2 linked regions of the Homo sapiens genome follow. The protein of the gene in region 1 purifies or fractionates together with the protein of each later gene. This does not show direct contact. Each region holds a gene or a part of one and is shown on either strand. Other genes may lie near its edges.

The links. Proteins that work in one complex are often made in the same cells at the same time.
Region 2: the proteins of KRT7 (region 1) and CEP44 purify together in Homo sapiens (affinity purification with mass spectrometry; one large-scale study listed by BioGRID and IntAct). This does not show direct contact.

What each region holds. Positions count from the first base shown.
Region 1 is NC_000012.12:52,238,940-52,244,433, reverse strand, and holds part of KRT7 (keratin, type II cytoskeletal 7), read right to left. Parts: intron 2,963-5,494; coding exon 2,798-2,962; intron 1,423-2,797; coding exon 1,297-1,422; intron 63-1,296; coding exon of another isoform or gene 1-62.
Region 2 is NC_000004.12:174,299,915-174,304,410, reverse strand, and holds part of CEP44 (centrosomal protein of 44 kDa), read right to left. Parts: intron 2,373-4,496; coding exon 2,225-2,372; intron 709-2,224; coding exon 562-708; intron 165-561; coding exon 42-164; intron 1-41. UniProt on the Homo sapiens protein: Centriole-enriched microtubule-binding protein involved in centriole biogenesis. In collaboration with CEP295 and POC1B, is required for the centriole-to-centrosome conversion by ensuring the formation of bona fide centriole wall.

The DNA.
Region 1 (5,494 bases):
TTGTAGCTCCCCATGACGCCCCTCAGTGGTGGTAGACACCTGGCTATAGGCCTGGATCCGCCCTGTTGTGTGAGAGGAGAACCGGATGTAGTAGAGGCTGCAGGGTTTGGGAAACCACCATTTGTTATTCTGTGCTTCCCCTCCTGGCCTGGAAGCTGGCCCACTTCATGGGGTGACTCACGGCCCTGCCTCTGTGCCCCAAGGCAGCCTCCGCCCTCCTGTAAACAGGCCCACAGGGCTCCAAGGGGAGGACATTTGTGGGTAAATCACCCTCACATCCCCCCACCACCCACAGCTCATCTGGAAATCAGCTTTCCGAAGCTTCCACATGTGTGCCCTCCCCCTCTCTCCACTGCAGACACCTGCACAGGCTGAGCTGCCCTGGCCACACACTACTCAGCCAGGGCTGGGGGCCCTTCCCCCATCAACACCTCCAACCCCAGCTTCCAGCAAAGCTCATCCTCCCAGGCAGTCTCTCATCTGAGACCCGTGCCCCTGCCATGTGCCAGGTGCTGGAAGAGAGGAGCAGTGAACCAGACAGACAGGGTCCCTGCTCTCCAGGCATCTGTTATATTCCAGTGGAGGTAGGGACCATCAATCACTTAATGAATAAGACAGAACATTTCAGAGAGTGACAGGGGCTTCAAAGAACTTCAGACAGGCTGCCGATAGAGGGGCTGGTGTTTGAGAGTGCCGTCTCTGAGAAGGGGTCTTTTCCTAAACCCCAGGGAGGAGAAAACAACAACCATGGACAGAGCTGGGAGAACCACATTCCAGGGGGAGGCAACGCCAAGTGCAAAGGCCCTGAAGCATGACCATTCTTGGCAAATGCAAGATGCAGGAAGCAGGTTAGCATGGCCAGAGCAGAGTGAGGGGAATCGTGGAAAGTGAGGTTGGAGTGGGTGGGAAAGGGCCATGTGAGTCATTATAAGGTCTTCTGCTGTCCTCTGTCCCTGCAATGAATGATGAGCTCCCAGGGACAGCGCCCTGCAGCCAGAACCAGGTGCAAGCAGAGTGCTCAGTATCAATGTGGAACCAGTGGTGGCTTTCTTCTGGCCAGCCAGCCTGAGTCTCCCTCCACAGGCTCTGTGCACATCCAGGACCTTTCTCCCATCAGCCCATGCCAGGACCTGGCCAAGAACATTCTGTGCTGGAGATCTCACAAGGGGGTCTGAGACAGTGGCACCAGCTTTGGCCGGGAGATGGGAACCTCCTGCTCCACATCCTGAGTTTGGCCTCAGCTGGCCACCCCTGCATGCCCCAAGTAGCAGGGGAAGCCAGGAGGACTTGTCCCACCTGGTTCTTGATGTTGTCGATCTCAGCCTGCAGCCTCTGGATGGCCCGGTTCATCTCTGAAATCTCATTCCGGGTATTCCGGAGGTCGTCCCCATGCTTCCCAGCCTGGGCCTGGAGGGTCTCAAACTGGAGGGGCCATACAGAGAGTTATGGCAGAGAGATGGGCAGTGAGTACAGGTAACTCATCCCTCTCCCCACCCAAGGCCCCTCCCAACTTATATTTTCAGGGAAGGACAGTCTGACTCCCATCAACCTTTGCCCGATGCCAGGAGACCAGACAGCAGTGTGAGGAAGGGATTCATTCTCCTCCAAGCCAGGCAGGGAGGACAGACAAGGCTCCGCAGTCCCATCCCCATGGACCCCAGGGCTCTTCCACTCCCACCATGCCCTTCTGCTGGAGAATCACTGAGAGTTTGAGATTCGCACCCATTCAACACCCAGAACACCCATTTCACAGGTGAGGAGAGTGAGTCTTGGAGAAGAGAAAGCACCACCCAGGGATCACACAGCCAATCAGTGATGGAACGAGGGCCTGAACCCAGGTCTTCTTGTTGGCATACTTGTGTTCTCACCCAGGCACCATGAATGACTCTCTATCTCTGCAGGGGCAGACCTCTCAATCCTTGCCTCGGGATCCCTTCTTCAGGAACACTGGTTCACCCCAGCACCCACTCCTGCTCCCTCAGCCCCTGCACCATCAACTGTCCTGCCACCATGAAGTAGATGTGATGATTAAGCCTCCCAGGTCTAGGGCCCTCACATTCAGGATTTAGTCCCTGCTCTTCCATCTACTAGCTGTATGCAGTTAGGCAAATTACTTAACCTCTCTGTGCCTCAATTTCCTCATCTTTAAATGGGGGTAATAGGCTGGGTGCGGTGTCTCACGCCTATAATCCCAGCACTTTGGGAGGCCGAGGCAGGTGGATCACCTGAGGTCAGGAGTTTGAGACCAGCCTGGCCAGCATGGTGAAACCTCGTCTCTACTCAAAATACAAAAAAAATTAGCCAGGCATGGTGGTGCACACCTGTAGTCCCAGCTACTCAGGAGGCTGAGGCACGAGGATCACATGAACCAGGGAGGCAAAGGTTGCAGTGAGCCAAGATCGCACCACTGCACTTCAGCCTGGGTGACAGAGCAAGACTCCATCTCAAAAAATAGAAATAAAATAAATTAAATTAAATAAAACAAAATGGGGGTAATAATGATGCCTATCTAATAGGGCTGTTCTGTGGATTACATGAGTCAATAATTACATGAGCCTAGTACTGTGTAAGTACTTGCCATATTTTAGCTATTATAATGATTAATCCATATCTATTTCCTCTGCCCTGTCCTCCCATCTTGGGATTTTCTCCAGGGCTGAGCACCACAGACTTAAACCACTGGTGCCTGCCAGAACAGTGGGACCCAGGCCCTGAAGGCTTGAGACAAGTTGAGGAGTAAGGGAAGCTGCCACCAAGGACCCTGGCAGGAGGAAATACGCCCCTGGTGGCCTCACACCTTGGTCTGGTACCAGGCTTCAGCCTCAGCCCGGCTGCATTTGGCCATCTCCTCATACTGCGCCTTGACCTCAGCGATGATGCCGTCCAGGTCCAGGGAGCGACTGTTGTCCATGGACAGCACCACAGATGTGTCGGAGATCTGGGACTGCAGCTCTGTCAACTCCTGTAGGGACCAGACGGGACATCAGGACTTAGGGCAGGATCCTATGCCCACGCCCACCCTGGGATTCCCCACTCACAAAGGAAAGAAAAGAGAGAACAGCTGGGAGTGGGCTGAGTCACCAGGCAGCAAGGGGGCCCAGACCCAGCACACATTAAGTTACTTCATTCTGCCCACCCTTGGCTCCCTGAGGGCCCATTAGCAGTGTCTCAAACGAGAATCTGGCAGGGTTAAAGGGGATAAGGAAAGGGACAGTGTGGTGCGCTGTGGTGACTTCTCACTGTGAGGTTCTGTAGGTGCACGAGCTCTATTGTGAGGGAGGCCATGGGGAATGGATGAAATTATCATATTCCACCATGCTACAGAATACTCTGCAGTCTGTACACCGATGATATGGCTCCAACTACCTGTGGGGAATATGCCCATGGTATACTGTTGCATTAAAAAAAGCATGATGCGTTCTCACTCATAGGTGGGAATTGAACAATGACATCACTTGGGCACAGGGCGGGGAACATCACACACCGGGGCCTGTCGGGGGCGTGGGGGGAGGGGGGAGTGATAGCATTAGGAGAAATACCTAATGTAAATGACAAGTTGATGGGTGCAGCACACCAACATGGCACATGTATGCCTATGTATCAAACCTGCACGTTGTGCACATGTACCCTAGAACTTAAAGTATAATAATAAAAATTAAAATAAAGCATGATGCTATTTTTATTGAAAATGTATATTTCTATATCTTTATGTATATGTAAGCACAGAAAAGTCTGGAAAGGTAGACACAAAGATGGTAGCATTGGGTATAAGTAATCCATTTTCTTTTTTTTTTCTTTTTTTTTGAGACAGAGTTTTGCTCTGTCACCCAAGCTGGAGTACAGTGGCACAATCTTGGCTCACTGCAACCTCCACCTTCCAGGTTCAACCAGTTCTCCTGTCTCAGCCTCCCGTGTAGCTGGGATTACAGGCACCCGCCACCATGCCTGGCTAATTTTTGTATTTTTAGTAGACACGGGGTTTCACCATGTTGGCCAGGCTGGTCTCCAACTCCTGACATCAGGTGATCCACTCACCTCGGCCTCCCAAACTACTGGGATTACAGGCATGAGCCACCACGCCTGGCCAAGTAATCCATTTTCAATTTACGATTTACTTAATTTTTTGGTTGTTTTGCAATGAGTATGTATTACTTTCACCATGAAAACAACTTTATATATATACACACAGGTGTGTTTACACATAAATAAACTAAACTTTCACCATGAAAAGAAAACTTTATATATATGTGTGTGTGTGTGTGTGTGTGTGTACACATGTGTGTTTACACATAAATAAACCATGTGATAGACCCAGGAAGACCTGAGATTAGAAGTGCCTGAAGCAAGCCTCAAAGAAACTTCCCCTGAAATTAATGAATCTGTGGACATTTGCTCTGAGGGGCTGGTGGAGACTGGACGTTCAGGCAAAGACTAGGCTGAAGAACTGGTTTGTAATTAACCTCACAAGCTAATTATGCCCAGCCTAGCCTCTGCCAGGTGACTGGCCACCCTACCTTCTGCCTAAGGCCAGAGACTCACACTGATGAGAGTGGAGAGATTTTTAAATCCCCTTGAAGAAAAAGAGCTGGAAACCCCGGAGGACAAGGGTGAGAGGGAGAGAATAAGAAGGGAAGGGAGGACATTAGAGTGGTGAGTTGGCAGGCAGCTACCCACCCAGCCCCTCTGGGAGTAAATGCTCAGGCAATCCAGTCTCTCCTGACTTGGGCTCCCCTGCTGGCCCTACCTAGCCCACCTTTGAACCCTGTCACAACCTGGAGTCCCCTGACCTCCTCCTGGTTCCTTCCAGTCCCACCCAATCCCCCTTCCTTAGAAATGCTGCGATCATCCCATGTCTCTCCAAGGTCAATCCTGATTGACTCACCCCCACCTCCTCCCGAATCCTTAGCCTGTCCTGAATTCCTGAGTCCAGAAGGGATAAAGGGCAGGATAAATCCTCGCAACCCCTGATGAAGGAAATAATGTATATAATGGTCCATTTCCAAGACAAAGTGCTTTAAATTGGCTTAGGTCAGCAAACTACAGAAGAAATAGGATATACTAGCCCTTTGCTTGAATAGCCAGTGCCTGCTTGTCAGCCCCCAGCTTCTCTTGCCCTCACCTGAACCAAAGAAGTTTAGTCTAAAATGAAGGTTTTCTAGCCTGCAAAATGGCTCACTTTTTCTGTTCTTATCAGCCTGCCCAGCTACTTAGGTCATAAGTCAAATACTTAAAGAGCCCTTGAGCTGACTAGGATTGCAATGCATTGTAGGCTGCAATAAAATGCAGCAAGACAACCTAAAAAAAAACACCTAAAGCCCCAACCCAACAACCAATAGACAACGTCCAGGAAGATCGTGACCCCATAGTACTCAGCCTGTGAGGAACGGAGGGAGGGACCTGTGCACTAGAGGATAAATTGCTTGTTGTGGCTGTGCTGGGCATGCCTGCCCATCAGACACCCATCTTGCAAGACTGTCATTAAAATCTCACTTTC
Region 2 (4,496 bases), on another chromosome or scaffold:
TAACTCTTAAACAATATGATATTTTCTTTGTGGTTGCATACCTTTCCTGAGGTCATAAACCTGCCACTGATATCAACGCCAACAGCCTCTGCAGATATTTTCTCATTGCCCAAAGGAGGTTCTGACTTACCAGAACTGATTTTCTTTCTTTGTTGTGATGGAATCTAAAAAAAAAGGTATTAGTCAAAATAACAAATTTTGTGTGAAAGCATAATTATATATTAAAATTCCATTAACATTTAAATTTTCATATATGAAATATAGCTGACAAATAATGAGACTCTAATGAGACTACATGACTTTTAAAAACTAAGAAGTAATGAAAATGTATTATGTTTGAACTATTAGTTTAACACTAGGAGTTCCCAGTCACAGGTGTATAAAACAAGAGAGTAGTATTTAAAATAAACAACAAGCTTTATAAGGTTACTCAAATCTTTGAATAATACAGTAATTACACTATGAAATAATTTGCTGTCTAGGGTTTTGATTTTATACATTAAAATACTGAGCCATCTATTAATAGCATACATCAGCATTAATATCTATTCATAAAATTACCTTCTGAAGACTGCTTAATTCCTTGTGCTTTTTCATCACACAATTCAAAATATCACAAACAATTTGGATTTTCCATTCTGCAAACCCACATTGGATAAACTGCTTTTTTGTCAAAATTGGTTTATAATTAAATTGATCACGAAGAAGCTGCAGAGGAAACAGACTCTTGTAATAATTGGGAGCAATTTATTTCTAAAATTCCAAATGATAATGCCCACCTGGTCAGGGGAATAATGGCCACCTTTGAGAGGACAAGGAAAACCAAGCCATTAACTAAAGAGTACTAAAGTAATTCATAGGGCTGGTGTTAAGTCATGATCCAGTAAGACAGGTATCAGGTGGAAAACAGGTAGCAAAGGATATGCTGGAGAACAGATGTCTGTCCAGAGAGATGGAAAAATATAGTCAATCATCAAAAAGTGTAAATATCTTCAGAGATATTAGAAAAACTTCTTAGTTCACTAGAATACCATACCAGAGTCAGAAACTATAGTTCTATTTGTTTATAACTCTTCCACTATGTGATTTTTGGATACGTCAGTAGGCCTTTTGGTCTCAATTTTTCATTTGTAAAATGAAAAAAAACACACTAGATCAGTAGTTTCCTAAATCTACTCTGTGGAGCTCTAGAATTTCTTAAAAGTGCCTCTTAGGCTTCCATGGATGTCTTCTGGGATCAAAAGCAAGAAAGAGAAAGATTAAACAGAGACTACATATAAAAGCTCCCATTTCATTGACTGCAACTCTGCTTTTTTTAAAAGACTATTTGAGGCTGGGTGCGGTGGCTCATGCCTGTAATGCCAGCACTTTGGGAGGCCAAGGTGGGCAGAGCACAAGGTCAGGAGATCGAGACCATCCTGGCCAACATGGTGAAACCCTCTCTACTAAAATACAAAAAATTAGCCAGGCGTGGTCACGGTGCACGCCTGTAGTCCCAGCTACTCAGGAGGTTGAGGCAGGGGAACTGCTTGAACCCAGGAGGCGGAGACTGCAGTGAGCCTAGATCGTGACACTGCACTCCAGCCTGGTGACAGAGCAAGACTCTGTCTCAAAAAAAAAAAAAAAATAGACTACATTTGATAAGTGGGTTTTTACCATTAAAAACTAACTTTAATACAAACCACAGTACTTAAGCAAAAATTAATGATAAAAGCAGGGTTTTAAAAAAATCAAATAAGAGATTAAATTCAGTATACACATAGTACAAGTATAAATACTAGGGTAGATACAATATAAGACATGCTCTCAGACCTCAAAGAATATATCAGTTTAATAAAAAAAAAATGTCAGTAATAGTTCCTTCTTACAAACAACTAAATTAACATATAATTCTAAAAAACTGTAAGTTTTATTGAATATAATTACATTACTCTCTAATTTCTGCCAGTATATCAAATTTTACTAAAATTTGATTAAAAAGGGCAAACAATAGCCAACAACAAATATTTACCAGTTGCTGTATTTATTAGAATAGGTAACATTCAAAAAGCAAACATGAATTGCATCTTGATTTCAATAGAGACTACATTTAAATGAGATAAATACAAATGAAAATATCCTGTCAATTGTATATGCTGCATATATTTAAGAAGTTATGACTAAATCATTAATTTTTAAAAATCATTCAATAACTAATAGTTATTGTTTGATAAACTCAAAATACCTTATAGACAGCATCTATAAAGCGCAAGTCATTTTTTGCTATGAGCTCTACATTGGATTCCATTATAAGTTCTGTTACATAAGGTGAGTATGAGGTAAAAGAATAGCTGATGATGGGCAAAGATGCTGCTGGGTCTCCCTTTATCAAACTGTTAGGAAAAAAAGAAAAATATTTTTAATAAGCATTTAATAAGCATAATTCCACAAAGTTGGATAATCAAGAAAATATTAGAAATGTTTATAATAATTTAAAACTTAACACTATAGCTATAATAATTAGGTGATACATGAGACTTTCTAGATTCCATTCCCCATTTGAAACCAGTCTAGCCAGACTACTATGAAATACCACTGTTCGTCTGCTCAAAAAACTTACTATAGGTCTCTAGTACCAACTATTTACCATTGATTTTCCAAAGCTTAGTCTTACGTGATCTACTCCATTTTCTACTACTAATAAAAGCAATGTACCATCTTACAAAATTGAAGTACACTTTATGGTTTTGCAAACACTTGTTCTATTACCTCCTTTGCTCTCTACCACAAACTTCCAAAGGTAAATATTATGAATTCTAAGTTACAGATGAGGAAGATGGGATGGGAAAAAGCATGAACTGTGACTTGGTTGACCAGTCTATTACTTTTCACTTACTGCTCCTTCTAAATCGTATATTATTACCTATGTTAATTCCACCAGTCTAGAAAGGTATCCCACTCTTCTTTGCTTATCCAATTATTATTTATTTTTTACAAATCATTCATCAAATCTCAAGCTTCCCATGAAGCTTTCCTCAACTTTCTGATCTATACTGATCTCTCCAAGAAAGACTCCCAGGCTACTCAGTATCTGCTGTGTCTTTATCTGTCTGGTAGTGTTTCCTGTCTTATTTTCTCAATGTGAAGTACCTTCACTGATTTTCCCACAACAAAGCACAGGAGGTATTTGTTCAATTTGCCAGTTACATTTGTTCAATTGCAGTATTTTGTACTTATATAAAGCAAATGTTTTCCAAAAAATTCAAGATGTTCACATAAACATCCCCATCTCCACCCAAATTTTTAGTAAGACAGAGAACAAATACATGATGATAGCACTGCATTTTGTTTTACTGGACAAATATGAATTATTTCTTTTATGTTTCTTTGAAATACTGTAATATTTCACCCAATCAGAAAACTCCTCTGGCAACCTTGTCTATCTGAAACACAGTCCAAAAACAGGAAATGAAAAAAAAAATACCTTTGAACAGCAAAATCTGTCCATTTTATGCACACTATACATAGATGATAGCCAGGCACACATTTAACACTTTTTATGTTAAACAATTTCAAAAATCTTGATTATCTAGTTCCTAAGGACTTAGCATATTAGAAACAGTAAGAAAAACAGATGCCAACACAAAAAACAGCAAATGGCCAGAAAACATAACAAATGTGAAAAAGTAGAAAAAAGAATCAAAATGATGGGGGTGTTGTGTGTGTGCTTAAATGTGTGTGGCAGGGAGACTAGCAATCTGAGTGCCTCTGTGGAAGAAGCAAGTAGCATTTCAAATCTCAATAGACCCTGCAGATTTTAGTATGTTATATAATAATCTAAAAATTGTTGTTCTTAATGATGCTTTTGGGTAATAAGAAAATTAAATGTTTAAACACTGTATTTAGAAAACAAGATAATACTGGTATATTTTAGAATTATTCCTATTTAAAATGTCTTTTAAAATGTTGACACTTAAAGTGGCAAGGAGAAGACTTGGCTACTCAAACTGGTTAAACCCCTGCAAGTTCTGGATGGTCAGGATTTTCATGTTTTGAGGAATCAAGATGATTTTTACATACATGGATTACATCTGTTTCATATCTTCTGCCTCTCACATATAATGCCTATAATAACAGCAACTTGAGCTAAACTTTCTCCTTACTCTCCTCTCTATCCTTTCACTTTCAGCCTTCTCTTGAGTTACCTCTCCCTACTGTAACCTCAAGAGTTATTAGAATATCCATTCTTATATGGATATCCATTCTTATATGTAAAGCCCATTACTGAAGGATTCTACTTACAAGTTTCCCTCTACTCTTGAACATCTAACTTGGACTTGTCCCTGGACACTCATTCATTCAATAAATGTCTAATCAACTCCTAATATGTGCCATGCATAATTCTAGATGGGGGGATTCCACAGTGAAAACAAAAAACAAAGTCCAAGACTTCAGCTTACATTCTAGTAACCAATGAACATTTAACCAATCCATCAATTAATCAATGATAAAAGGTT